Linked DNA regions of Homo sapiens. The protein of the gene in region 4 interacts with the protein of the main gene of each other region in a pairwise test. Each region holds a gene or a part of one and is shown on either strand. Other genes may lie near its edges. The genes, in order: IQCB1, C11orf65, IQCN and CALML3.

The links.
Region 1: the proteins of CALML3 (region 4) and IQCB1 interact in binary tests that used the Homo sapiens proteins (3 or more experiments, as listed by UniProt).
Region 2: the proteins of CALML3 (region 4) and C11orf65 interact in binary tests that used the Homo sapiens proteins (3 or more experiments, as listed by UniProt).
Region 3: the proteins of CALML3 (region 4) and IQCN interact in binary tests that used the Homo sapiens proteins (3 or more experiments, as listed by UniProt).

The regions. Positions count from the first base shown.
Region 1 is NC_000003.12:121,832,056-121,839,351, forward strand, and holds the start of IQCB1 (IQ calmodulin-binding motif-containing protein 1), read right to left. Parts: upstream 3,006-7,296; 5' UTR 2,911-3,005; intron 2,425-2,910; 5' UTR 2,336-2,424; intron 1-2,335. Other genes in the region: EAF2 (ELL-associated factor 2), read left to right, coding at 4,601-4,739. UniProt on the Homo sapiens protein: Involved in ciliogenesis. The function in an early step in cilia formation depends on its association with CEP290/NPHP6.
Region 2 is NC_000011.10:108,401,525-108,408,552, forward strand, and holds part of C11orf65 (protein MFI), read right to left. Parts: intron 5,626-7,028; coding exon 5,572-5,625; intron 5,440-5,571; coding exon 5,239-5,439; intron 4,036-5,238; coding exon 3,905-4,035; intron 1-3,904. UniProt on the Homo sapiens protein: Acts as an inhibitor of mitochondrial fission. Interacts with MFF and prevents DNM1L recruitment to mitochondria, promoting a more fused mitochondrial network.
Region 3 is NC_000019.10:18,271,425-18,278,467, reverse strand, and holds the start of IQCN (IQ domain-containing protein N), read left to right. Parts: upstream 1-4,015; 5' UTR 4,016-4,065; intron 4,066-7,043. UniProt on the Homo sapiens protein: Essential for spermiogenesis and fertilization. May be required for manchette assembly in elongating spermatids.
Region 4 is NC_000010.11:5,520,716-5,527,273, reverse strand, and holds CALML3 (calmodulin-like protein 3), read right to left. Parts: upstream 2,314-6,558; 5' UTR 2,189-2,313; coding exon 1,739-2,188; 3' UTR 503-1,738; downstream 1-502. UniProt on the Homo sapiens protein: May function as a specific light chain of unconventional myosin-10 (MYO10), also enhances MYO10 translation, possibly by acting as a chaperone for the emerging MYO10 heavy chain protein.

The DNA.
Region 1 (7,296 bases), on a different chromosome or scaffold from region 4:
TGTTAGATGAAAATTGGTATGATTGTGTTTTAATTTGTATTTCTTTGATTATTAGGGATGTCAGGCACATTTCGTGTTCACTGGCCATTATTTCTTTTATGTATTTTCTATTCATATCCCTTGACTATATTTCTATCGGTTTGTCTTATTCTTTTGCAGAAGCTTTTCATACATGGATAGGAATCTTTTCTCTTTTATATTGGCTGTAAAATTTTCTCCTTGTCATTTATTTTTTTAAATTTGACTATGGGGTCTTTACCATAATTTTACAATTTTTTTTTTTTTTTTTGAGAGAGAGTCTGACTCTGTTTACCCTGGCTGCAGTGCAGTGGTGCAATCTCAGCTCACTGCATCCTCCACCTCCTGGGTTCAAGTGATTTCATGCCTCAGCCTCCCAAGTAGCTGGGATTACAGGCGTGTGCCAACGTGCCCAGCTAATTTTTGTATTTTTAGTAGAGATGGGGTTTCACCATGTTGGCCAGGCTGGTCTTGAACTCATGACCTCAAGTGGTCTGCCCACTTCGGCCTCCCAAAGTGCTGGGATTACAGGCATGAGCCACAGCGCCCAGCCATTTTTACAATTTTTACATATGAAATATAACAATCTTTTCCTCTATGGCATCTGTCTTTTGTGTCCTGTTTAGAAAGGTCCTCTCTAACCCAAGAGATAAAAAACATTCTCCAAATCTTCATGTTTTTTTGGTTTTGTTTTCCTTACATATCTTCTAAAGTAAGGTATTTTTGTGAATGGTGTCATATAAGAATCTAATTTTTAATGTTAAAGTTATTGATGGATTAAAAAATGCACACAGTAGTCATAAATTCATAAGGTAACTAGTTATGAATAGACATAACAGAAACAATCTGAAACGTCACATTTTCATGCACTATGTATACATACACATACACAGGGTATCTTTTTGGACTCTACTTAGTTTCTAGTAATTTAATCTGTTTGTCTATTCTTGAGCTAGTACAACATAGTTCATTTTAATATATGTTTGGAGAAAATTCACCTCAGAAGGTAAGCTTCATGAGGGCAACCTACCTATCCCTTAGAGATGATTAAATGAGTTAATACATGAAAGCAATTGGAACAATTCCTGGCACATAGTAAGAGCTCTCCAAATGGTTATTATTAAAGCCCAGTTCTACCATCATACTACATTTTAAGACCATCTTTGCTGGCTGCCTTCTTATATCTTTGGTTCACAACTGTATTCCCAGTGGCTAGACTAGTACCTGGCACGTACTAGGATTTGCTAAATACAGGTTGAAAGTATGAGTAAATGCACAAACCTCAGGCATTCTGAGCCTCAATTTCTTGACTTTCTGTTTTTCTCTTGTTACAATAGAGAAAGCTCAGATTTATAGTTGGAAGCCTCTCTAACGTAAAATAGGCTCAAAACAGTTTGTGCCCTCCTGGCTACCGTAATAAAACATCACTAAATCATTATTGTCATCAACAAATATGTGCAGAGCAGTATGGTAGATGCAGGGGATGCAAAGATTCTACACAAGACATACTCTCTGCTATTGTTCTGGTTGGGAAAGAAAAGTATGTTTATGTACATGTGTACACACACACAGATACAAAAAAATATACTTAAGAATATCAGATATATGTTAAATGCTAAATAGATGACACAGATAAGAATACAGGCCATAAAGTCAGAGGACTGGGCTTCTCTGAACCATTTTTCTTGCTGTAAACAAAATAGCAATTCCTACCTCCTAGAATGATTCTATTTAGAAGAGAAGGCAGCCACCAAGATGGTCTTAAAATGTAGTATAAGTGTAGAGCTGGGCCTTAAATAACCATTTGGAGACCTCTTATCATGCTCCAGGAATTGTTCTAATTGCTTTCATGTATTAACTCATTTAATCATTCCAACAACTCTAAGGAACAGATACTATTATTTTTTTCCCAATTTGAACAATGAGCATACTTAAACTCTGGAGAATGTAATTAGCTGGCACAAAGTCACACTGTTAAGTATAAAGCAGGGGTTCAAACTAGAGCCACCATCTGCCTTAAAGCATTTAACTACGATATGAAACAGCTTCGGCACACCTTCAAAGGGTAGGATTTACACAGACAGGTTGAAGGAGACATAACCACCTACCCCAAAATCAATTGACAAATGTGCCTAAGGCAGAAGGTGAGGGAGTGCAGTTGGATTGCGTAATTACCCTGAAAAACCACCTGTTATGGAAACCATCTGTAAACTTTCTCGAGTGTTTCTCCTATAATTCAACACTTCTCCCATCTTTACATTAAATTCATGAAATTTGACACAAAAAGACAATTATTTATCTATTTTAAGGCTACTACCCTGTTGCCAGGCCACCGGGTCCGGCCCAGCCTTGATTCTTCGGGAATCACTTCTCCCTCGCCGCGCCTGTTACTGCCTCCACGGATCACTGTGAGGAAAATAAATGAAAAGGAAATTCAGTGCGATCCTGTTGCGGCTGATCCTAAATGTCTGCAGTTGCTATCTCCGAATCCTCTTTCTCCTCCCCACTACACATCCCCTTCTCCAGTCCTAGGACCACAAGAAACTTCCTCTGGTACAAAAAGGTCAGAAAACGATTACTGAGGTAACAGCGTCGCTTCAAGTCTAAGGACCGAGATTCTGGGGCCTCTGGGCTCCTTTACTCCAGATTCTAGACCCGGCTTTCGCGCTACCAGGCCTTGGATAAGACACTAGGCCCTGTGCCTGGACACTGCACCTCCCCAGGCCTCAGTTTCCACACCAGATCTCTACAGAGTGGGCGTGAGGGCAGGCCGATTCTCCCGTTAAGAGCTCTTACAAGCCGGCTGACTTCGTCCAGGAGCCTGGGGTCCTGGCCTCCTGGTAGGCGCCCTGGGGCCCTCTCCCTCCCCAGCCACCACCTCAGATAAGTTACCTCATCCTCGCTTCGCGTTCTTCCACTAAAGAACCTGGGGCTCCCACGCCGCACTACAGCGCCGCGGCCTTCCGGGGCAGCGTGCGTCGCGACGCGGGAAGGGGCCTGGAGGCGGGACTAGGAGCCTCGGAGTCAAGGGGCGGAGCGCCCTTTGCTAATAAGCCAATCAGAACGTGAGACGCTCCGGTGGGGCGGTGCGCGTCGAGCGCGGGGTGGAGTCTGGGTGACTTGGCTGGCGGGATCAAGTGCAGCTGCTTCAGGCTGAGGTGGCAGATAGTGAGCGCTGGTGGCGGAGTTAAAGTCAAAGCAGGAGAGTAATTATGAATAGCGCAGCGGGATTCTCACACCTAGACCGTCGCGAGCGGGTTCTCAAGTTAGGGGAGAGTTTCGAGAAGCAGCCGCGCTGCGCCTTCCACACTGTGCGCTGTGAGTGAGGACCATCCGGGGATAGAGGGGGAGCCTCCCGGGATGGGGGTGAAGAGGCACAAACCCCTCTGGGTTTTGTTCCCACAGTACCCCTTACACTGTTGGAGACTACGGGGCGGGGAGGGGGGAGGCAGCGCGATCCTCTAACCTGCTCGGAGTCTTAGGGGGTCGGTGGAAGGAATCGGAGTAGAGCAAATGTGGGTAAACCCTGGACAGAGAGCGTTGAGACCAGCAGACAGGAAGGGAAAGTGTGAAAAAAGTCTGTAGAGGTGACTGTGGAGACAGACGTGACAGGTGGATGATGCAGGGGTGGACAGGAAAATAATAAGGTGACAAATGGGAAGGGACTAAGGACCGAATGCCGGGGAACTTGAATGCCTTGAGGCTGGTGGGGCAATATTCTCTCTTTTCATCACTTTTTCTCACCTCTGGCAGATGAGGGTTCTTATTTGGTGTGTTCTTTGCAAAGGGAGAAATTCTCAACCATCCCAATGATCTGTATATCTCTTTGGACCCCAGATTTCACTCAGTTATCAAATACTGATTATCAAAGTATTCGAGGGTGTGTTATTAATTTCTTTATTTGGAAGATGCTTACCTCCCTATGATTTCTACCCTTTGGTTTTCTTTATGTCCTCTGGAACTAGTTTTAATAAATTATTCTCTTTTATGTTGTTGGAGTAGAAAAAGGAGCTCTTTTGCTTTAGCAGTTGGATGATATAGATTCCAGGAAGGAAAATATAGCATATAAGTTTTTATGTGTAAGACATTCGTTTTTTGCATAACAACTGTCATAGAATTGTAGAGCGGGAAGGAAACTTCAAGATCACTGAATTATAACTTCTCATTTTTCTGTGGTAAAACTGTAAGTATTTTTTCACTTCCTTTCCCCAGCCTTGCCCTTCCTTAATATCTCATCATTCCGCCTTTCTCAGTCATTCTGTTCTCGGGTTGTTTAGAGACCTTTATGGTTTTTACTCTGAAATGTTCCATGGTTCAATCAAAACAACTAATTAAAGCATACATTCTCCCAAAAGTTTATTTAAGTTGTAGACAATTTAGTTATAGTTACTCAAAGTAAAGGTATGAAGAACCACTGGTTTTAACCCTGCAAGAATATATTTACTAAAAGGGTTTTTTTAAAGCAAAATTAACATCCAATTGGTAGAATAAATGGGTGAGATATTTGTGAACAGAAACTCTTCAACAGTGTCCCTTGTTTATTCTTCTTTATCATATACTTTCTCATCCAGAGCTCCCCACGATGAGATGGTGCTGTGCTGGCTCTGCAGTTTCTCTCTCTTCAGTCCCATTTTCCGGAAGTGTGATATGCGTCTTTATCTGGTTTTTCCATGCCTTTTTCTCAAATAGTATCTACTCTCTCCTTTTCTCTTCCTTCTCAGGTATGCAATAGTCTTAATATTAATTTTTCAAGTTACAAGGGCTTAAGATTATAAAAATTTGCTTAAGAATATATTTCTATATGATTTGGGTATATATTCTCTTATGTAGGGCACAAATCCCAATTTAAATGAATAAAAAATTGCCTTTGAAAATAATCTTGCAGGTCCTTCACAGCCTTTCATTTATAAAGGTTCTGAAAATGCCAGTATCTTGAAAGTCAGAGGATCAGATGATCCAGCTACCAGAATGAAAATAAACAAAAATAAGCAAAACAACAATAATGACAATAATAAATAAACAAACATACATGTTTGAATACACACTTAGTCCTGTGGAAGACAGAACTATTAGAAAAGTTTTCAGTCCTTATTTTCTTTTATTGTTGTTGTTGAAGCAGGTGTGGTAATGGCACAGAATCATTTTAGATTTATTTAAATAAAACTGTTTATTATTCTTGAGGACAGGTTCATTTCCAATGTAATCCTCACTCTTAAGAACTCAGAGTGAGGTTTGAAAATTGTAGAATAGTATGAAGCTGATGTTCATGCAGATAAGGGGGACCTAATTTATAACCAACCCTCAAGCCAATGTCATTGGAGAGAAAGTAATATTCTGCCTTTATTTACAGGAGCAATTCTGCCTGTCTGATATAAGACTTCAGGCAAACCCGGATGTGAATCCTGGTCTCCACCACCTATATATATAATGTGACTTTGGGAACATTCTCTAAGCTCTCAACCTCAGTTTTCTTATGGCTAAAAGATAATAGTAATATTTACATTTCATGGTTTGTGTAAGGATTAAATAAGATAGCATAAACAACCTGGAACAATATTTGCCACAGGGTAGAGAATAAATAGTAGTCACCATTAATGTTGAAGAGTTATATTCATATGTGTACGAGGGGTGCTAATGAATGTAATTTAGTCAGACTTTGAAACAGCATTTATCAGAGTTTAGCAATAAAAACTATCAAAAAGATAGTCTGGCATGTGGTAGGAAGGGCATGGGATGTTCTATCAACGATAAGCTGAATGCTTAGCAACAGGTGCTTTACCGGGTAGAAGAGTTTCAATAACAGGACCTACTAGAATCAATTTTGAATTGGGAGTAGTACTAGTTTTACTATTTATATCCAGATAAGGCAATGAATTGTGAAATCCTAAGTTTGTAAATGACACCACTTTTTTGTGTCCTTAAATGATGAGCTAATGAGCAGTGTGGGTTTTGGAGTTGGTTGAATTCATTCAAATCCCGGAAAATAAACTGATGATAATAATTGTGGATTCTTATGAAAATATTGGCATTATGTGATGTTACAGTTAAAATAATCAGAAAAGCGATAAACATTGGCAGAAAAGGTATTAAATACAAAGTAGAAAATGGTTTTCTACTCTTCATGCAATATAATAAGTAATTCCATTGTAAACCTGAAAAAATTGCATAGATGAAAGAAATCCAGAGAGAATAAATAAATGGTAAAGTTGGTGGTAGGGTTTCCAAACCAAGGAGAACTGAGAAATGAACTATTTAGTCTGGAATCATAGCAACTTGGAAGAGAATATGTTTGACATTTAGAAGCATACAGAAAGTATGAATATGAGATTAATCAGCAAATTCTTTAATTCTGGAACTCAACCACTTGAAACTCGGAAGTTATATACTTTTAAAAAAGTGTGTGAGGACAAAAGACAACACTGCTTGATATAATGGGTAATAAAGAGTAGAGTTTATTAATCCTAACAGTAGAATAATTAGAAATGTAAATAGATTCAGAATAGTTTTGGCAGATTTATTGATTATGAATTCATGTTTATCATTAAGTAAAGCTAAAGATATTTTGCATACATTTGTCTCTTGCAGATAATCTCATATACTATAGGCATCTATGTAGTCTTCAGGGACCTGTGAACCCCTTGGGATTGTACAGTATTTGATATGTATGTTCATATATGTATTTTTCTGTGGAGAGGATCAATGATTGGTCTATAATTTTCATCAGGTTTTCATAGGGATGGATTTATGATTGTCTCTCATCTCCTAATACTGCTCCCCATACACATACATACAAGTTAAGATCTGTGGATGTAAGACAAACAGGCTATATAATATGAGGAGATAAATTATGTGGCTTGAGTTCCTGACTTCATCATTTATTGACTTCATTACTTTAGAGGAGTTCTCCATTAGTAAAAGGTGGGCAAAATGTTCAACCCAAAATTTTTTTTGTGAAGATTAAAATTGATAGTATATTGTAAAGAAAAAAATCACTTCATAAACACTAAAACAGAGGTTATAGATTAATAGCATATAGGCTGAGCTTGACTTTAGAAGTGCTTTGTTTGGTCCACACCATTGTTGTTTTATCTTGAGTTAGTTGCAAATACCTAACATTCAGGACCTTTTATATAAAAAATCTAGATTTTCAGCTTATCTTTAAAAATCAGATGATAAGCTGGCAACATTGATCCCATATCTTCTCTTGGCAGCAGTTGGGTGGAGCAGAGTTATGAGATTGGGTTTATTCATCCTCCGTGTGACTATGATTCCCACTGG
Region 2 (7,028 bases), on a different chromosome or scaffold from region 4:
AAGTCATAAAACATGTTTTCCTTGAAAAGTAAGAAACGATGTAATGCACTTCTCAATTAATTGAATAACTATCTTTGTTTCTTGCTTCTGTAATATGCTTCCCCCTGCACAGATCTCCCCCAACCCCATGAAATGCTTAAAAGGTAACTTAACTCTTTGTTCAGGGCTCAGTCCTTTGGATGTTAATCCGACTGGGCCAGTACACCTAAAATAACAAATATCCTCCTCTACCCCATCGGTCTCTCTGATTCCTTATCAATCCTGCTACACTACAGTATACCAGAGAAGTTCCAGCATTTTGCAAAGGTAGAACTTTGGTTGGCTCTACCTAAATCAGGCTTTGATTAGCTAACTTAACAGACCATTAACATAATTTCTGGCCAAAGCATTAAATCCACAATCCCAGGTGAGTATGGCCATATCAGTAAGTTCGGCCCAGCCAACTCTCGATCTAACAACCTTAGAATCCACCCTCACACAATGCTTCTGAGATTCCTGGCAATGTAGATTAGTAATTTCTTGTAACTGTTCTGGTTTATAAACTATCTCCTCTTGGAGTGGACCTTGTACCTCTGTCTGGGCTGTCCTGAAATACAAATCTCATTGTGAGCTAAAGGCAATGAGAAATAGTAGAGGGGGAATCCTGAGGAGAATCAGCTTAAGTGTGTGTGGCAACTGTGCCAGTGCAGTCACTGAAAGGCTTTTATGCAGAAAAGGGCCGCTTCCCTCAAAAGGGAGAGTAAGGGTTCCCTACACCAACAAGGCACTTTGGAAGTTCAAGATTCTTAGCCTTGTGTATGTTTGCCCAAATGTCCTAATCCCAGGCCTCAGAGTTCTACTTCTTCCCCACTAGTGCCCTTATCTTAGTGCAAAAGACCTGGCAGAGTTAAGCATTTGGTAGTACTGTAGGCATTGTAACCCTGTGACCCTTGCAATGGAACCCAGGGTTGCCCTCAACCCATGCTGTGACTATGAGATAAAGGACCACTTCAGAGCTGCCAGGGAGGTCTTCTGATTTTCTGCACAGGTTTTTAATTTTTTTTTTTTTTACTATTTTATTGAGGTATGGTTGATGTACAATAAACTACACATATTTAAATTGTACAATGTACAGTTTTGACATGTCTATATACCTGTAAATCCATCACTACAATAAAAAATAAATCTATCCATCACCCTCTGACGTTTCCTTGTACTCCTTTGGAATCCCTCTCTTTTTCCTCTTTCCTATCTCCAGACAACTACTGATCTGATTTGTGTCACTTCAGATTTGTGTCTTCTAGAATTGTATGTGAATGGAATCATACAGTATGTATTCTTTTTTGATAGATTTATTTCATTCGGCATTATTTTGAGGTTCGTCCATGTCATTCTGTCTATCAGTAGTTCATTCTGTTGTACTGCTGCGTAGTATTCCTTTGTGTAGATATCCTACCACTTGCTTATCCATTCACCTGCTGATGCAAATTTGTGCTGTTTCTGGTTTTTCGCAATTAAAATGACAAATAAACCAGCTATGAACATTCACATACAATCTTTCTGTGGACATGTTTTTATTTCTCTTGGGTAAGCATGTAGGGGTGGAATGACTAGGTAGAATATTTGGTGTGTTTACTTGTTTAAAAAAAAACTTGTCAAACCGTTTTCTGAAGTACACATTCTAATTTGCATTTGCTCCATATCCTTGCCAACAATTGGCATGACAGACTATTTCAGTCATTCTAGTGGGTGTGTAGGGGTATCTCATTATCATTTTAGTTAGCACTTCTCTAATGATTAATCATAGTCACTGGTTGAGTTATGCTAATTTGCTAGGTATGTATCTTCACTGATGGAGTGTTTATTCAAATTTTTTGCCCACTTTAAAATGTGATTGTTTGAGAGGTTTTTTTTTTGTTTTTTTTTTTTTTACATATTCTTGATTCAAGAACTTTGTCAGATATATATTTTGCAAATGTTTTATCCCGGTCTATGGCTTTTAATTTTGATAAAGTAAAATTTAAAATTGTTTCTTTTATAGTTCCTGACTTCTATGTCCTCTTTAAAAAATCTTGGCCAGAACAAAAGGCACTAAGATTTTCTCCTTCAATTACTTTTAGATGCTTTATGGTTTTTGCTCTTATATTTAGATCTATAATCTCTTTTCAGTTAATTTTACACATGCTGTAAGAGAACACTCAAGTTTCATTTTTCTGCATTTGAAAATCCAATTTGTTGAAAAGACTATTTTTTCCCAATTAAGTTCCCTTGGCACCTCTGTTGAAAATTAATTAACAATATACATGGGGGTTTATTTATTTATTTTTTTGAGACGGAGTCTCGCTCTGTCGCCCAGGCTGGATAGTGCGAGGATAGCAGTGGCTGGGGGGAAAGGCTGACTGATTCCAAGGAATGAGTCATCTTGCTCACCTGATTATTAAGATTCTTCTCTGTTGAGATTGTTCTTTGGTGAGCATTCACATACGACACAAGCATCTTCTCACTTGGTGCCCATCTGGAGAAGTCTGCACATACCTCTTCCCCAGACCACTTGTCACCAATTTTCTAACCATGTTCTTTCCAAATCCCTGACCATCCAGTCAAACCATCCATCAATCACCATCCATCTATAGATCTATACTTCTGGCCATCTTTTCTTTCAGGCACAATATACAACCAGGTATGCTACTTGAGGTTCTGTCCCAGTAGGATTTCCCTTCCCCTCTGTACTGCAAGTGAAGCTGTAATGTATATGGAACTTCCTGTGAGTCCCACCTTTTACTTGACCCCCTTAGGCCTGTTAGGACTTGAGTTTGACCAATGGAATGCAAAATAAATGTTGCTGTGACTTCCAAGATAAGGCCTTAAAAAGCCTTGTAACTTCCACTTTCTGTCTTTGATACTTTTTTTTGTGTTTGTTTCGAGATGGAGTCTCGCTCTGTCACCCAGGCTGGAGTGCAGTGGTGCGATCTCTGCTCACTGCAAGCTCCGCCTCCTGGGTTCACGCCATTCTCCTGCCTCAGCCTCCCAAGTAGCTGGGACTACAGGCGCCTGCCACCAAGCCCGGCTAATTTTTTCTTTTCTTTTTTTTTTTTTTTGGATTTTTAACTAGAGACGGGGTTTCACCATGTTAGCGAGGATGGTCTCAATCTCCCGATCTCGTGATCTGCCTGCCTCAGCCTCCCAAAGTGCTGGGATTACAGGCGTGAGCCACCGCGCCCGGCCACATGGGGGTTTATTTCACAATTCCATATTCTGTTCCATTGACCTATATTTCTGTCTATATGCCAATACCACAATGTCATGATTACAGTAGCTTTATAAGTCTTGAAATCAAGTAGTATAGTTCTCCAATGTTGGGATTCGATCAGGCTGCTGGGAAAAATATTAGTTATGATGGCCACAAAACCTTTTTGGAAGGCCTGAGGGTTTTCACATGACCTCGGTAACAGACCGGGCCGAAGGCGGCCTGGTCCCATTAACTTTAGTTAAAAAGATTAAAGTAGTAAACAACGGGATGTGGCGAAGTTTTACCTAGTTAGCTTGTTTACTCATGCGGTCTTAAGACAAGCCTTTGATGTGTGCTTTTTACTCGGGAAGTCCACAATGTCAGTTAGCCTCTAATGGCGTTCACTCAAACTTTTGTTAACTAATCTTAATGAATAAATATGAGTCTCCCTAGCTGATTGGGGCCAGCTGCAGTGACAAGCCTCTCTTGGTGTGTAGGCGGTTGGACACTCAGCAGGACTGGCAAAACAGAATATCTGTGTGTCAGTGTGCGTTTTATTCATCTGTCGTTTGGGTCAGGGTCTGCGGGCAGACCCCCTGCAGCTAATGCCCTCTTGTGAGGAGCAATACCTCATTTCAAATTTGTTTTTTTCCCAAAATACTACGTATTTCCTTAGTAAGTGTTTCATCAACTTACATTTGCCTCATCCACTCTATTTTTCTAAGTTTTCTTTTCTTTTCCAAATCTTGCCTTCTCTTCAGTTTAGAGAAATGGAATTCACTTTCCTTTTTGTCTTCCACCACCATACCATCAGTAGATAGCCAAAACTATTGAGAAACAAAAATGAACATACAAAATGTTGAAATATCGATTGTGAGGTTATCTGGCAATAGACAAGAACTTCTATGTGTTCAGTAGGAATATGGCAAGATAGAAACAGAGGAGAGGATAGATACTTTCAAGGTATTTCTAATTAAGTGATGGGTGAGTAGTACACTCAGCCTTCAGAAGCACATGCTACAGATAGATCAACAAAGTACTAGTGTACTGAGGTGCTTAATAAGTGTTGAATGGATAAATAAACAGATATATTCTAAGAGTGTCTCATCTTCTCACATGAATAGACCTGACCTACTCTTAGTGCTGATGGCTTTTGATGACTCTAATCCTCAAGGAGTACAGCCACCCTTCAGGAATGCAGAAGTCCCTGTACCATGTCCTAAGACTTTGTGGTTTCCCCGTTATGACATTTTCTCCTAACTGGTTGTCTATTTTCCCCCTTCCAACTCATTCCCCCTGCTCTATCACACATACCCTAGATAATAAGGAAAGTTTGTTAATCCTTCCAAACACTATATATTTGCCCTTATTAAACCACTTAACATGTTTACCACACTGTACTGAAATATCCTGTTTACTTGACTGTCTCCCTAATTGAAAGGCAAACTACTTAAGTCTATCCCCTGCATCCAGAACAATGTCTGGTATATGGTTGATATGCAATAGTTTATTATTAAACAAATGAATGAATTCATACCTTGATCATTTTCACTTTTCATACTTGGTATATTCTTTTGTGTTTGTTTTTGTTGTTGTTGTTAGTTTGTTTTTTGAGACAGAGTCTCACTCTGTCGCCCAGGCTGAAGTGCAGTGGTGCCATCTCAGCTCAAAGTGCTGGGATTACAGGCATGAGCCACAGAGCCTGGTCATACTTAGTGTTAATATATTCAACATACCAAATTCTACAATCCGTATACTGGGTATATAATCTGCTGAGTACCAGAGAGTATCTAAAGATGGTCTAGATTCAAAGCTGATAATTAAAAGTAGAAATAAATGTAGTAAGAAAAAGATAAATTGCTGTGCCTTGAAGTATTATTAGCAACCCCTGAGTAGCTAACTTAAGCAAAATTTATCAATTAAATTACTAGGATTTATTATTTTAAAAAATAATTTTAAAATTAATTTTTGAAAAGACAAATGGGTTTCTAAATACGTAAGGTTAAAAATTAACATTTCTCTTTTCTTACTGTATCAGAAACTGGCCTCCAGCCATTGTTTTCTATACGATGATACCAGCCACTATGATCCTCTTCCTGAAGATGATCATTTTTATTATGAGATGTATGCTTTGCTGGAAGTTTTGCATAATTTCTAGGGCTGTTAGCACAGAGATCTTCAATAGGTCTGTGAGTAAAAATCTTATAGTATATATCAGGTGGAAATTTAACCTGTAGAAGGAAAAGTTCAAAGAGCCATTGTAATGTAACTACAAAAATGTTTTACATTTTGAAAAATTACATTGTTTCAATTTCATAAAAATGTGCTTTATAACTACTAAATAAGCATTCATCCATACTTACTCCACCTAATCTGAATCGCACATGAATGCCAGCAGCAGCATCTAGAAGCTCTGCCTATAAGAAAATATATTATTCTTATATATTATTCTTCAGGATTCTGTATGTATCAATTCACTATTTCTCACTCTATTATTTTAAATAATTGCTAAATATTGACTATTTAGGAAATCAGTCAGGTGAACCAACCTCAAATAATCAATTTTAAATTAGAAAAATTGTTAAAAAAATTTTTTTGAGATGGGATTTCACTCTGTTGCCCAGGCTGGAGTGCGGTGGCATGATCTCAGCTCACTGCAGCCTTAACCTCCTGGGCTCAAGCGATGCTCCCATCTCAGCCTCCCAGATAGCTGAGACTACAGGTGTGCACCACCATGCCTGGCTAATTTTGTATTTTTTTTTTTTTTTGTAGAGACAAGAGTCTTCCTATGTTGCCAAGCTGGTCTCGAATTCTTGGCCTCAAGTGATACTCCTGTCTTGGCCTCCCAAAGTGCTAAGATTACAGGCATGAGCCACTGTGCTCAGCCATTAAAAAAAATTTTTTTTTTGTAATTAGAAAATATTTTATGAGGCCGGGCATGGTGGCTCACGCCTGTAATCCCAGAACTTTGGGAGGCCGAGGTGGGTGGATAATGAGGTCAGGAGATCGAGACCACGGTGAAACCCCGTCTCTACTAAAAATACAAAAAATTAGCTAGGCATGGTGGCAGGCACCTGTAGTCTCAGCTACTCAGGAGGCTGAGGCAGGAGAATGGCACGAACCCAGGAGGCAGAGTTTGCAGTGAGCCAAGATCGCCCCACTGCACTCCAGCCTGGGCGACAGAGCAAGACTCTGTCTCAAAAAAAAAAAAAAAAAAAAAGAAAAGAAAAGAAAATATTTTATGAGCTAAGGACTTAATTTCTTTTTATTATTATTATTATTATTATTATTATTATTTTATTATTACACTTTAAGTTTTAGGGTACATGTGCACAATGTGCAGGTTAGTTACATAGGTATACATGTGCCATGCTGGTGCGCTGCACCCACTAAAAGGACTTAATTTCTTATGGACATCTATGGTAAATGAAAAAATGATACCAAACTGTTTCCTTTTTATGCAATATATAAACATAAAAGCCAAGTAATTTTTTAGTCATAAAACTTAACTTTTAAATAACTCCTCAAATATTACATATAAAATATTATCTTGCAGGTAAATTCAAAGAAAAAATTATGACTGATCAACCTAAATTCAACAGTAGATGACCTTTCCTAATTAGCTATTGTTAAATTTAAAAATCCATGTTTAAAATTCTGGGCCGGGCGTGGTGGCTCACACCTGTAATCCCAACACTTTGGGAAGCCGAGGAGGGTGGATTGTTTGAGGTCAGGAGTTCCAAAGCCAGCCTGGCCAACATGGTGAAACCCTGTCTCTACTAAAAATACAAAAATTAGCTGGGTGTGGTGTCGGATGCCT
Region 3 (7,043 bases), on a different chromosome or scaffold from region 4:
CCCGCCTCGGCCTCCCAAAGTGCTGGGATTACAGGCGTGAGCCCCCACGTCCGGCCAGGGTTTGGTTTTTAGCTGTCACGTTGCCTTGTGGGAGGTCATGCAGACGTTTCAGCAGGGCCTGAAGGAACCTGCTGAAGGGAACTGAGGCTGAGGTGGGAGAGCAGGGGTGTCTTGACACACAAGAGACCAAGAACCACATCTCGGGCAGAGTGTCACTGGTTGGGAGACCGGGACCCAGCTTAGGTTCCAGTTGGCATTTGTGAGATCTCAGGCGAGTCCTCCTCCCCCGATGGCCTCTACATCCTGTGCTGTGAGATGCGGGTGTTTGCATCCAGCATAACATCTCTCAGGTCAGAAGTCAGAACTGGGAGGTGCTCAGGGGACGGACAACAGTGACCGCACTCAATGATGGTACCTACTGTGGCCCCCAATTAGTAGAGAAGGGGAAGGGAGGTTTTGAGACTTGCCCAACACCCCTGTTTTTTTTTTTTTTTTTTTTTGAGACAGAGTCTCGCTCTGTCTCCCAGGCTGGAGTGCAGTGGCGCAGTCTCGGCTCACTGCAAGCTTCGCCTCCTGGGTTCATGCCATTCTCCTGCCTCAGCCTCCTGAGTAGCTGGGAATACAGGCGCCCGCCACCACGCCTGGCTAATTTTTTGTACTTTTAGTAGAGATGGGGTTTCACCGTGTTAGCCAGGATGGTCTTGATCCCCTGACCTCATGATCCGCCCGCCTCGGCCTCCCGAAGTGCTGGGATTACAGGCGTGAGCCACCGTGCCCGGCCAACACCCCTGTTAAATGGCAGAGCAGCGATTCAAACCCAGGTCTCTTGCTTGCCTGCCCCCAAGTGGTCTAAGGCGAAAGGACTCTGAGGAGCCCTGCAGAGAGGTGGAGGACGTACTTTGTTTTTCTTTTTTTTTTTTGAGACTGAGTCTTCCTCTTGTCGCCCAGGCTGGAGTGCAATGGCCTGATCTTGGCTTACCGCAACCTCCACCTCCCAGTTTCAATCGATTCTCTTGCCTCAGCCTCTTGATTAGCTGGGATTACAGGTGTCTGCCACCATGCCCAGCTAAATTTTTTTTTTTGAGACGGAGTCTCGTTCTGTCTCCCAGGCTGGAGTGCGGTGGCGCGATCTCAGCTCACTGCAAGCTCTGCCTCCCTGGTTCATGCCATTCTCCTGCCTCAGCCTCCTGAGTAGCTGGGACTGCAGGCGCCCGCCACTATGCCCGGCTAATTTTTTTGTGTTTTTAGTAGAGACGGGGTTTCACCGTGTTAGCCAGGATGGTCTCGATCTCCTGACCTCGTGATCTGCCCGCCTCAGCTTCCCAAAGTTTCTGGGATTACAGGCGTGAGCCACCCTGCCTGGCTAAATTTTTTTTTGTATTTTTAGTAGAGACAGGGTTTCACCATGTTGCCCAGGCTGGTCTCGAACTCCTGACCTCAGGTGATCCACCCACCTTGGCTTCCCAAAGTGCTGGGATTACAGGCGTGAGCCACTGGGCCCCACAAGTTTGTTTTTTTTTTTCTTTACAAGATGAGGTCTCGCTCTTGCCTTGGCCAGAGTGCAGTGGCAAGACCACAGCTCACTGCAGCCTTGACCTCCTAGGCTCAACTGATTGTCCTGCCTCACCTCAGCCTCCCAAGTAGCTGGGACCACAGGTGCACGCCACCATGCCCTACTAATTTTTATTTTTATTTTTTCTTTGAGACGGAGTCTTGCTCTGCCGCCCAGGCTGGAGTGCAGTGGCGCCATCTCGGCTCATTGCAAGCTCCGCCTCCCAGGTTCACGCCATTCTCCTGCCTCAGCCTCCTGAGTAGCTGGGACTACAGGCGCCTGCCACCATGCCTGGCTAATTTTTTTGTGTTTTTAATAGAGATGGGCTTTCACCGTGTTAGCCAGGTTGATCTCGATCACCTGACCTCATGATCCGCCAGCCTTGGCCTCCCAAAGTGCTGGGATTACAGGCGTGAGCCACCACGCCCAGCCGCCCTACTAATTTTTAAATAATTTTTTTGTAGAGATGGGATCTATGTTGCCCAGGCTGGTTTTGAACTCCTGTGTTCAAGTGATCCTCCAACCTCGGTCTCCCAAAATGCTGGGACTACAGGTATTGAGCCACTGTACTCGGCCTCTTTTTTTTTTTTTTTTTTTTTTTTTTTTTTGAGTCAGGGTCTCTCATTCAGGCTGGAGTGCAGTGGTGCAATCTTGGCTCACTGTAGCCTCCACCTCCTGGGTTCAAGTGACTCTCCTGCCTCAGCCACCAAAGTAGCTGGGATTACAGGCATTTGCCATCATGCCTGACTAATTTTTGTATTATTAGTAGAGACGAGGTTTTGCCATATTGGTCAGGCTGGTCTCAAACTCCTGGGCTCAATCGATCTGCCCGCCTTGGCCTCCCAAAGTGCTGGGATTATAGGCATGAACCATCGCGCCCAGCGTCCCCAGCATTTATTGACACCTAGTTGAGGCCAGCCCTCCAGTCTGATGGGGGAGTCAAGCAGGCATGAGCTGTGATGTGAAGGGCTTTTTCTAAATCACAGATCTGACTCCTTACTTGAAACCTTTTTGGAAAAAGTCCTGACTGCACCAGTCCCTGGGCTGGCCAGTGTCTCCTTTCAGGAGCCTCTCCACCCAAATTCCCAATATCCTGCCTTCCTGGCCTCAGGGTCTTTGCACGGCTGCAGCTGTAGTTCTGTGCCAGCTACTCTTCCCCCAGTCATGCAGCTGAGCGCCACCTCCCAGCCTCAGCTGCACAGTCCTCGGAAGCCTGTCCCTAGTAACCCTCAGGCTAGGCCAGCACCTTACTGGGCTCCTACGGTCTCCAATTGCCCTGAGAACTCCCAGTTTGTGTTTAGCTCGTTGACAGCACAGAAGGGACCTGTTCTGATGAAACATCCAAAGGATGAGCTGGGTGCAGTGGCTCATGCCTGTAATCCCAGCACTTTGGGAGGCCGCAGCAGGCGGATCACTTGTGGTCAGGAGTTTGAGACCAGCCTGGCCAACATGGTGAAATCCTATCTCTACTAAAACTACATAAATCAGCTGGGCGTCATAGCATGCACCTGTAGTCCCAGCTACTCAGGAGGCTGAGGCACGAGAATCGCTTGAACCCGGGGAGGTGGAGGTTGCAGTGAGCTGAGATCGTAGCACTGCACTCCAGCCTGGGCAACAGAGCGAGACTCAATCTCAAAAAACAGACAAAGGATATAAACCCCACCCAACTGCCATCTGCCATGTCCCTGATTTTGTCCAAAGTCACACCCACAGTATAGGGAAGGTTTTGGAGGGGGTGATCGCTGCAGAGGGAGGTCAGGCACCCCTGCTGGTTCTTGTCCCGGCAACCCCCAGCGGCTCCCCAAGGAAGCCAGGCAGAGGCTTCTGGGCCAGGCTGGCTTTGGCTGGAGCCAGCTGCACTGAGTCCAAGGTGCGTGTCAGCCTTGGCCCAGCCAGCGGTGACTCATGCTGGGCCCCAGCCCAGCCCCAGGAGGTGATCCAGGACAGCAGCCTGACTTCCCCTTATAGCGCTGCGGCTCAGGGTCAGTACCCACTTTTGCCGGGCCCAGTGGGGATCCCAAGAGATCAAGTCCGGCCCCACCCCAAGGAGCCCGCAGTCTCAGAGCCACACCCAAGACATCAGTGAGAACCCTGACTGGCCCGTTGCACCCCCTTTTTGGTCCCTTCCCATCTAGCCATTTTACAGCCTCAAATTCTTTGAGTTGTTTGTATCCCCAGACATGGGGCAAATTCCAGCATATAGTAGGTGCTCAGAAAATGCCCGTGGGATGAAAGACTGAAACTGCCTCTAGGTACATGGAGGGGGAGATTTGGGGTTCCCTCTGTGCTGAGAACCCTTTGTACTCAGGATGAGCCGGTGTAGGTAGCAACCACCATGACCTTTGGCCCTGCCCTGCATCCTGTTCCCCAACCTCTGGCTGTGCCTTCTAGAATCCCCACCCCCTAAGAGCTGCCAGGGATTGGCCAGAACTTGGCTTTGAGTCACAAAGCTGCTGCGGCACCAGGGCTCCAAGACTGGCCGTTCAGACTGCTAGGTTTAGCTTCAGGGGCAGGTGAGTGGGGCTGGTGGCTTTGGGGGCGGGTGAGTGGGGCTGGTGGCTTCAGGGGCGGGTGAGTGGGGCTGGTGGAGGACTTGTTTGCGAGGGTTCGTGGGGGACCCTGTCGTTCTCCTCTGGCCCCCAGTGCCTTTAGAGCCCTTCTGGGCCTTCTGGGTGACTGCAAATGATGGGTCAGCTCCTTGGCCCCTCACAGCAGGGGCTCTAGGGACCTCTAAAGCCTTGATGGTGGATTTGTTCACCTGTGATGGGGGACATCATGGAGAGCCTGTTATGTCTCTTTATTATTATTTTTTTAAATAAATAGAGACATGTTGCCCAGGCTGTTTTCAAACTCTTGGGCTGCAGCGATCCTCCCACCTTGGTCCCCCAAAGTGCTTGGATTACGGGCAGGAGCCACTGCGCCCAGCTGAGCCTGTTGTGTCTCTTTGGCAACCTGAGGATGGTGATCTTATGTCTTGTGACAGATAGGGAAATTGAGGCTCAGAGGGGTTTACTCAAAATTACCGAGCCAGTCGCTTGGCTTCTGTGTCCAGGGGGCCCCTGTTCCTTCTTCTCATCCCCCACAATCCCGTTTCTCACCCCTTCTGGTTGAGTTCCTCTAAAGAGCTGCACCGTTTGGTTGATGAAACCTCAGCCCCTGGAATGGGCCCATTCAGCTCCCAGAGCTGCTGTCTCCCGGGTTCAAGTGATTTTCCTGCCTCAGGAGTTCGAGACCAGCCTGACCCATATGGTCAAACCCCATCTCTACTAAAAATTCAAAAATTAGGCCGGGCAAGGTGGCTCACGCCTGTAACGCCAGCACTTTGGGAAGCCAAGGCGGGCAGATCACCTGTGATCAGGAGTTCAAGACCAGCCTGACCAACATGGAGAAACCCCATTTCCACTAAAAATACGAAATTAGGTGTGGTGGCGCATGCCTGTAATCCTAGCTATTTGGGAGGCTGAGGCAGGAGAATCGCTTGAACCTGGAGGCAGAGGTTGCAGTGAGCCAAGATGGCGCCATTGCACTCCAGCCTGGGCAACAAAAGTGAAATTCCGTCTCAAAGAGAATAATAATAATAATTAGGCCGGGCATGGTGACTCATGCCTGTAATCCCAGCACTTTGGGAGGCCGAGGCGGGCGGATCACTTGAGGTCAGGGGTTCGAGACCAGTCTGGCCAACATGGCGAAACCCCAACTCTACTAAAAATACAAAAGTTAGCCAAGTGTGGTGGCAAGTGCCTGTAATCCCAGCTACTCGGGAGGCTGAGACAGGAGAATCACTTTGAACCTGGGAGGCGGAGGTTGCAGTGAGCCAAGATCGTGCCACTGCACTTCAGCCTGGGCAACAGAGCAAGATTCCGTCCATCTCAAAAAAATAAAAATAATAAATATATGTGTGTCAATTATCCATGCATTGCCTCTTGTCTCCGAATGGACCCTTTCAATATGTGATAAACAAAGGAATTTCTTTCGTTATGTCTTGTTTAAAGTGAGCACAATGCTCGGCCAGGCGCGGTGGCTCACGCCTGTAATCCCAGCACTTTGGGAGGCCGAGGTGGGCGAATCACGAGGTCAGGAGATGGAGACCATCCTGGCTAGCATAGTGAAACCCCGTCTCTACTAAAAATACAAAATATTAACTGGGCGTGGTGGCAGGCGCCTGTAGTCCCAGCTACTCAGGAGGCTGAGGCAGGAGAATGGCGTGAACCCGGGAGGCAGAGCTTGCAGTGAGCCGAGATGGTGCCAGTGCACTCCAGCCTGGGAGACAGAACGAGACTCCGTCTCAAAAAAAAAAAAAAAGTGAGCACAATGCTAAGATTTCTCAATAGAGGGCGCTGGTGAGGCATTAGGGATAGAGGTGTGAAGACACCAGGTGAAGCCTGCCCGAGCCCTGGATCCAGAACGTGGTCCTGTGACTTTGCAGTCTTGACCTGGTGAAAACCTTTCTGCAGCCCTCTCAACACACACAAAAAACAGAGCCCCTAAGGCCGGGCGCGGTGGCTCATGCCTGTAATCCCAGCACTTTGGGAGGCCAAGGTGGGTGGATCACCTGTGGTCAGGAATTTGAGACCAGCCTGACCAATATGATGAAACCCCATCTGTACTAAAAATACAAAAATTTGCTAGGCGTGGTGGCAGGTGCCTGTAATCCCAGCTGCTCAGGAGGCTGAGGTAGGAGAATCGCTGGAAACCGAGAGGTAGAGGTTGCAGTGAAAGGAGATCGCGCCACTGCACTCCAGCCTGGGCGACAAGAACAAAACTCAAAAGAGAGAGAGAAAAAAAAAAAGGCCAGGCGCGGTGGCTCACGCCTGTAATCCCAGCACTTTGGGAGGCCGAGGCAGGCGAATCACCTGAGATCAGGAGTTTGAGACCAGCCTGGCCAACATGGTGAAACCCCGTCCCTCCAAAAACAAAACAAAACAAAACAAACAAAATTAGCTGGGTGTGGTGGGATTCATGCCTGTAATCCCAGCTACTCGGGAGGCTGAGGCAGGAGAATCGCTTGAACCCAGGAGGCGGAGGTTGCAGTGAGCCAAGATGCTGAGTGCCGCTGCACTCCAGCCTGGGGGACAGAGTGAGACTCTGTCTCAAAAATCATAAATAAATAAATGATAATAAACGAACAGAGCCCCCACGGTGGCCCATACACATTGAAGGCCTCCTGCCCCAGCAACACTTAGGTTTCCAGTGCACATCCAGAGCACCAACTGTTGATAACCTGTTCCCACATCTGCACCCTGGAGGGTGGGCCTTTTGCTTGTTTTGCAACTCCAGACCAGCTCTGGCTTGGCCGATCCAGCAATTATCTCCGTTAACTTGTTAGGCGGGACCATACTTTCTCCAAGGAAGTCTGAATGCTCTCCAAATTTGCCCCTTTTTTGGGGATACTCCCTCAGCCCTAAAGTACCACATAGAGTTTCCTTTTATCTTTTTTTTTTTTTTTTGAACTGAGTTTCGCTCAGTCACCCAGGCTGGTGTGCAATGGTAT
Region 4 (6,558 bases):
GTAGCTGCCATTATTAAGCACCTACTACATGCCAGGTGTGTTAAGAATGTTGTTCTGGCTCCTCACAAGTGCTGGAGAGAGGCGCTACCGTAGTTACCATGATGGAGGCACAGGTTGGTGTCAGACCTGTAGCTGAGTGGTCAGGGCACAGACCTGACTGAAATCCCAGGTCTGCCTCTTACCCACTGGTGGGACCCAGGGCTGCTTTCTAAAGCCCTCTGTGTCTCCACTTCCTCGTTTGTAAGATGAGGAAGGTAATAATAGTGGCTGCCCCATAGGGAGGTGCCAATTGTCTATGCAGGCCAAGTGCTTGATGGTGCCCTGAGCCCAAGCAGGTGGCATGAGGGTCCTGTCATCCTGGAGGTCCCAGTGGTGCAGTGATGATGGCAAGGCCGGGGCTGGGGCCCAGCTCTTTGTTTTACAAAGGAGGAAACACTGGGTGTTGGTGGGCGGGGGTGGGGTGTCAGGGAGAGAGGATACATCCACCATGGCCTTTTCTGATGAGCTCCGTCTAGTGCCCATCCCGCAAAACATACCTCCCTTTAGAATTGAAGGGATCTCTGGCAGGGCCCCTTCGACCTTCTCTAGGTGTTGCCAGCAGCTTGCAGGGCTAGTGCAGGACTAACGGCTCTGAATTGCTCTTACACTGTGTGTGCCCAACTGCCCCCCAACCCCTCACCATCTCTAGTGCCTGGCACTTCACAACCAGGGAGCACTTGCCAGGGGGAATCAAAGCAATCAGCAGGTCCCTTCTCAACGTAATGGACTCAGGTCTTTCAAGTCCTGATGGACTTTTAACCACTCTTTGCTGCCAGCGTATCCATTTGATTGAGAATATTCAATATTTCCCTCATCCAGACTTGTCTCTCTCTGAGGCACCTTTCCCGCTCCCCCGTATAGGAATTCATTGCATTTTCAAAAAGCACAAAAATGGAGATTCCTGCCTCGTTTCAACCCTGAATTTAACAAGGATCATTTCCATGGAAACCAAAAAAAAAAAGGAAATGAAATAAGGACGAATATCTCATTTATTTCCCTGCAGCTCTCATCCCCTGCTCATCCAAGCCTCCCTCCTTCCAGATGAATAGGAACAGGTTACAGCTGACCCAGTTTCACTCCCAGCTTCAGAAGATGAATCACGGTGGGTTGGCGGACAAGGAATGGGGCAAGCTGGGGCAGCGCGGAAGGCAGTGCTGTTTTCAGGAGGCCTGACCTCTGTGGCCAGAGTCCCCGTCAGCACCGCTTACTGCAGGCCAAGATGCCTCCCACCCTCCAGAATCCGACCGCGGAGGGAGCTTCCAGTCCAGGAGCCTGCGGGAATCCTGGCGGGGGCTGAGGGCTGCAGCCCCCCTGGCCTGGGCATTGGGTGCCTCTTAGGGATCTTGCCTGGGTGCCCTAAGGGGTCACCCGGTGTCCGTCCTGGAGGGCCGCAGAGTCAGCGCAACCTGCCCTGGTGCTCGGTCCTAAGGTCAGCTCTGCTTCTCCCGAGTGGGGAGGGCGTCACGGTTTGCCTGCAGTGGGAGCGTTCCGTGTCATTCAGACGAGCAGGTGGGAAGGTCGGCAGGAGTGCAGAGAAGAGACGCGGGAAGCGGGATGCAGAGAGGTGGGCTGAATCAACCAGGCGCAGGAGGAAGCCACAGTGCCCAGGGGAGGCAGGGGGATGGGGGAGGAGGCGGGAGGCCCCGGGTTCTTGCCCTGTGGGCCGCGTGGGCGCCCAGGAGCATGGTGGGCGCCGGCCTCACTTGGACACCAGCACACGGACAAACTCCTCGTAGTTCACCTGTCCGTCTCCGTCCGTGTCCGCGGCCCGGATCATCTCGTCCACCTCCTCGTCACTCAGCTTCTCCCCCAGCCGGGTCATGACGTGTCGCAGCTCGGCGGCGCTGACGAAGCCGTTGCCGTCCTTGTCGAACACGCGGAAGGCCTCGCGGATCTCCTCCTCGTTGTCCGTGTCCTTCATCTTCCTGGCCATCATGCCCAGGAACTCGGGGAAGTCCACGGTGCCGTTGCCGTCCCGGTCGATCTCACTCATCATGTCCCGCAGCTCGGCCTCCGTGGGGTTCTGGCCCAGGGACCGCATGACCGTGCCCAGCTCGCGGGTGGTGATGCAGCCGTCCCCATCCTTGTCAAACAGGGAGAAGGCCTCCTTGAATTCTGTGACCTGCTCCTCAGTCAGCTGGTCGGCCATGCCAGGGGTGGGGGCGTGGGTGGCAGAAGAGGCCACTGTGGGGTCTCCCTCCCAGTGCCGCAGCCCGGCTGCTGTCCCAGCTCTGGGGTGGCAGGTGGAGATCCGGGCGGCCGGCGGGCTGTCTCGCCCTGGCTTGAGACGCTGGAGCTTAAGAAGCAGCAGAGTCCTCCCCCATCATTGGCAGACGCCCCTGCCCTGCGGTTGCCCGGGCCTGTCCTGTTTAGACAGGAGTCCAGGGCCTGCGAATCGAGCTGACGCCAGCACCTCTGTGCCTGCTTGCACCTGGACCCAGCAGAGCCACGGGGGCCCCGAATCACACCTGCAGTCAGGGCGTGGTGGGTGAGCTTTGGAGCAATCCACGCTGGACTCCTTCCTCCTGAATTTCCCTTTCTCTCCTCCCTCCCCGTCTCCCACCTGCCGCCTGTCTCCCACTCAATAAACTCCAGTGCCCTTTCTTCCCTTGAGTGGAGGGCTTTTTGCAGGATGAAAGGCAGATGAAAGAAACGTCCTTGCCTTTGGTTTCTAAAGCCTCATATAGAACAGGAGGGTTTTTGGAGGAGGAAGGTTTTCCCTTCAGGTAGAAGCAGCGAGTTTTCTTATCTTCAGAATGGACATGAATAGGGAGGGGTTTCCTCCAACCCATTCACTCATCCACCCTTTCACAGATATTTGAGTGCCTACTAGGTGCAGTGTCACTCTGGAAGCTGGGAACACAGTGGGACCGGCAAGCCACCCCCAGTCCTCGTGAGGTTAACTAGCAAGACAGCTAGTTTGCAGGTCAACTGATCGAGGAATGCAAACAAGGTGACTAGGGATTATTGATAAATGCTGATGGACATACAAGGTGGTGATGGACAGGACCCCGAGGTCACCTTTCAGCCTGGTCAAGGACAGACCTCCTGCTGAGAAGCAGCTGTCTAGGCCGGAGTGGCCATGGCAGGGCCAAGGGCTGGAAGATGATCAGTGGGGCTGCAGGCCTGTGAGGGAGGGGACAAGGAGGAGAGACAAAGGAGACCTTGAAGGGCTCAGCCAGGAAGTCCCACTATCATTCTCTGGTCCACATTGCCCCAGGAGCTCCGGGCAGCATGGAGCTGGGGCTGTGGAGCGGCCTCTCCCAGAGGAGACCCGCTTAGGGGGATAGTGGGGTGTTCACAGCACAGACTCGGCTCCCACTCCCAGGGGGCCTGGAGACATGACCCCCAGAGAGGCAGGAGCAGGCGCTTCACCTGTGGGAATCCAAGAAATCCACACTGGGGGAGAAACATGGAGCCCACTCTATTTTTTGCTGGGTGTGTGGGGGTGGGGTAGAGACCGGAAAGGGAAAGAAAGTGTCCTTTTGAGGACCTGGACTTGCCGAGGAGAGACTATGGCAGGAGAAGGGCTCGGATATTCATTTTTTTTCTCTCTGATTTTCCTTCCCTTCTCTATTCAAGTAGAGGCAAGTGTGTCCTTCTGGTCTGGAGGGGGTCTGTGGTAGGGGGAAAATTGAAGCCACCTGCAAGACACCTTCCTTCCTACCTGAGGGCTCCCACAAAGCCTGTGTCCTGAGGGTTTGGGCAGGAGGAAGCAGGAAGGTTGAAGAATCCCTCCATCCCCATGGAATCTTTTCCTTAGAAGAGAAGTTTGTGGACCCCAGAGCAGCAGGGCTCAGGGATGTGGTGGCCACAGGCAGCCTTGGCAAAGAGCCCTGGGGCCCAGGGGTGGCGTGGAGGGAACGAGGTGATGGGCATCTTGGAAGCCACGTGTGTGGGTGACACTTTGGTGACCAGATCCCACCCTCCCCTCCTTTCTCACCCCAGAATATTCGGCCTTGCCTGAGACCTCACACCCCAACAGCTCTAGGGGAGTGGGGAGATGGGCTGGCCAGGACTCCCTGGGGTAGGAGAGGGGCTGATAATAAAGTTTAGATTTAGAGAGAAAAATGAGGCAGCATCTCCATTTGCAGGCTGGGAGCATGCCCTGGGCCCAGGTTACAGCTCTGTCCACAGGGGGCTGCGCAAGAAAGAGTGTGTGCTTTGCTCCTGGGAGCCCCGCCCTTCCTCGAATATTCTGGAGATCTCTTTTGTGGTGGGGAGACCCAGCAAAGGCTGCACACACAGCTTGCTCAAGGTCACCCCATGAAAAGTTCAGCTGGGGATCAAGGTCCCTTTTTTATTTTGGGGTTTTTTGGGGGCTAATTCTGGGACATGGGGACCTTCTGTCACCTTCTGAGAAGGGCTCTTGATTGTACACTGGTGCCTGATGCCTGAGTGTTAGAATTCATATCCCAAACGCACTTTAAAAATATTTAAATATCTCCGCTCTAGATCACCCGAATACCCAAAAATAGCAGGTTAGTAACAAATACCTGAAATTTCCTCCACACCATGAAATAATACACAGCCTTTAAAATGAGGATGAGGATATAACAATGGAAAGGTTTCCATGGAAAATTTTTAAAAAGCAGATAGAAAACTGTATATGTGATATGATTTCATGTATTAAACATTTATATATGTTTATTTATATACATTCACAGAAGAAACGCCTAGATAATCATGTACCAAACTCTTAATAGTGGATACTTTGGATAATAGGATTATAAGTGCTTTTAATTTTCTTATAAATGTAGTATCTTTGCTCATTTAAAAATGTTTTATATTTGCCATATATCATTTCTATTATTAGGGGAAATGACTGAAGATTCAAAAACCATCCCTGATAAAAAATATTCCATATCTTACTGAACTCCCAATATTCTTTCTCTTTCTCTGAGGTTAGGTAATGTGGAGGGCCTGGTAATATTGTCAGCTTTATATCTCTCAGAGATATGAGACTATGGTGAGCATAGCTATTATTATGTATAGAAAAGCAGAATAATTAATAGCCAATAACCACACCCCCTATTTGACTGCCAGAGTGACCATCTAGTGGAAAAGATGCTATGAAGCATTTTTCTTCTACTTTCCCTGCCTAGGGGCTGGAGAGACTTCTTCATGAAGGAATACAGGGACAGTCACAGGAGACAGGAGCACCAAGGGATTCGGACATGTGGCTGACACAGTCTTCTGGAGAGCCCCGGATGGCATCAGGGGGAAACCTGGCCTGAGACAGTGCCCTGATGGACAAGGACAGGAATACGGTCATACCTCCTGCCCACTTGACCAACGACCAGGATGAGAAGCCAACAGGTAACTGCTGGTTTCTGGGTCATGGCTCTGTGGCTCAAACATTAGCTTTTACCTAAATGTCCTTCTCAAAAAGGCACACTGAAAGAGGACTCAGTGCCAGGTGCAGTGGCTCACACCCATAATCCTACCACTTTGGGAGGCCGAGGCAGGCCTGAACTTGAGGTCAGGAGTTCGAGACCAGCCTGGCTGACATGGTGAAACCTCTACTAAAGGTCTCTACTAAAAGTACAAAAATTGGCCAGGCATGGTGGGTGGTGCCTGTAATCCCAGCTACAGCTACTTGGGAGGCTGAGGCAGAAGAATCACTTGAACCAGGGAGGGAGAGGTTGCAGTGAGCCAAGATCGTGCCACTGCACTCCAGCCTGGGAGACAGAGCAAGACCCTGTCTCAAAAAAAAAGAGGACTCAGAATTTTAAACAGCGTTGCTTAGTGCAAAGTGACTCACAGAGGACCAGGACCGCCTTACGATGGGCCATACTGTTGCAACTCGCTGGTTGGGAAACTGTGACAGAGGGAATGTTTTTTATTTTCTGTTTAACTCTCTCCCTGCAGCCTCTCACCCCAATATAGCAACTCCTTTCCCTACAGAATAGATATTATTTTGGTCTCAGGATACATTTAAACATTTAAAAATTATTGGGGACTCCAAAGAGCTTGTGTTTATGTGGGATATATATATATATATATATATACTGTGTTTGCAACTAAAACCAAGAAATATTTAAATATTTAAGTATATTTTTATATATTTATAACTTAATAGAAATAAACCCATTACTTGTTCACATAAAACCATATTTTTCAGCAATCCCATTACTGGGTACATACCCAAAGAAATATAAATTGCTCTATTATAAAGACACATGCACGCGTATGTTCATTGCAGCACTGTTCATAATAACAAAGTCATAGAATTAACCAAATGCCCATCAATGATAGACTGATAAAGAAAGTGTGGTACGTATACACCATGGAATACTATGCAGCCATAAGAAAGAACGAGATCATGTCCTTTGCAGGGACAGAGATGGAGCTGGAGTCCATTATTCTTTCAAACTAATGCAGGAACCAGATACTGCGTGTTCTCACTTATAAGTGGGAGTTAAATGATGAGAACACATGAACACAACACACACTGGGGCTTACTGGAGGGTGGAGGGTGGGAGGAGTGAAAGGATCAGGAGAAATGGCTAATGGTAC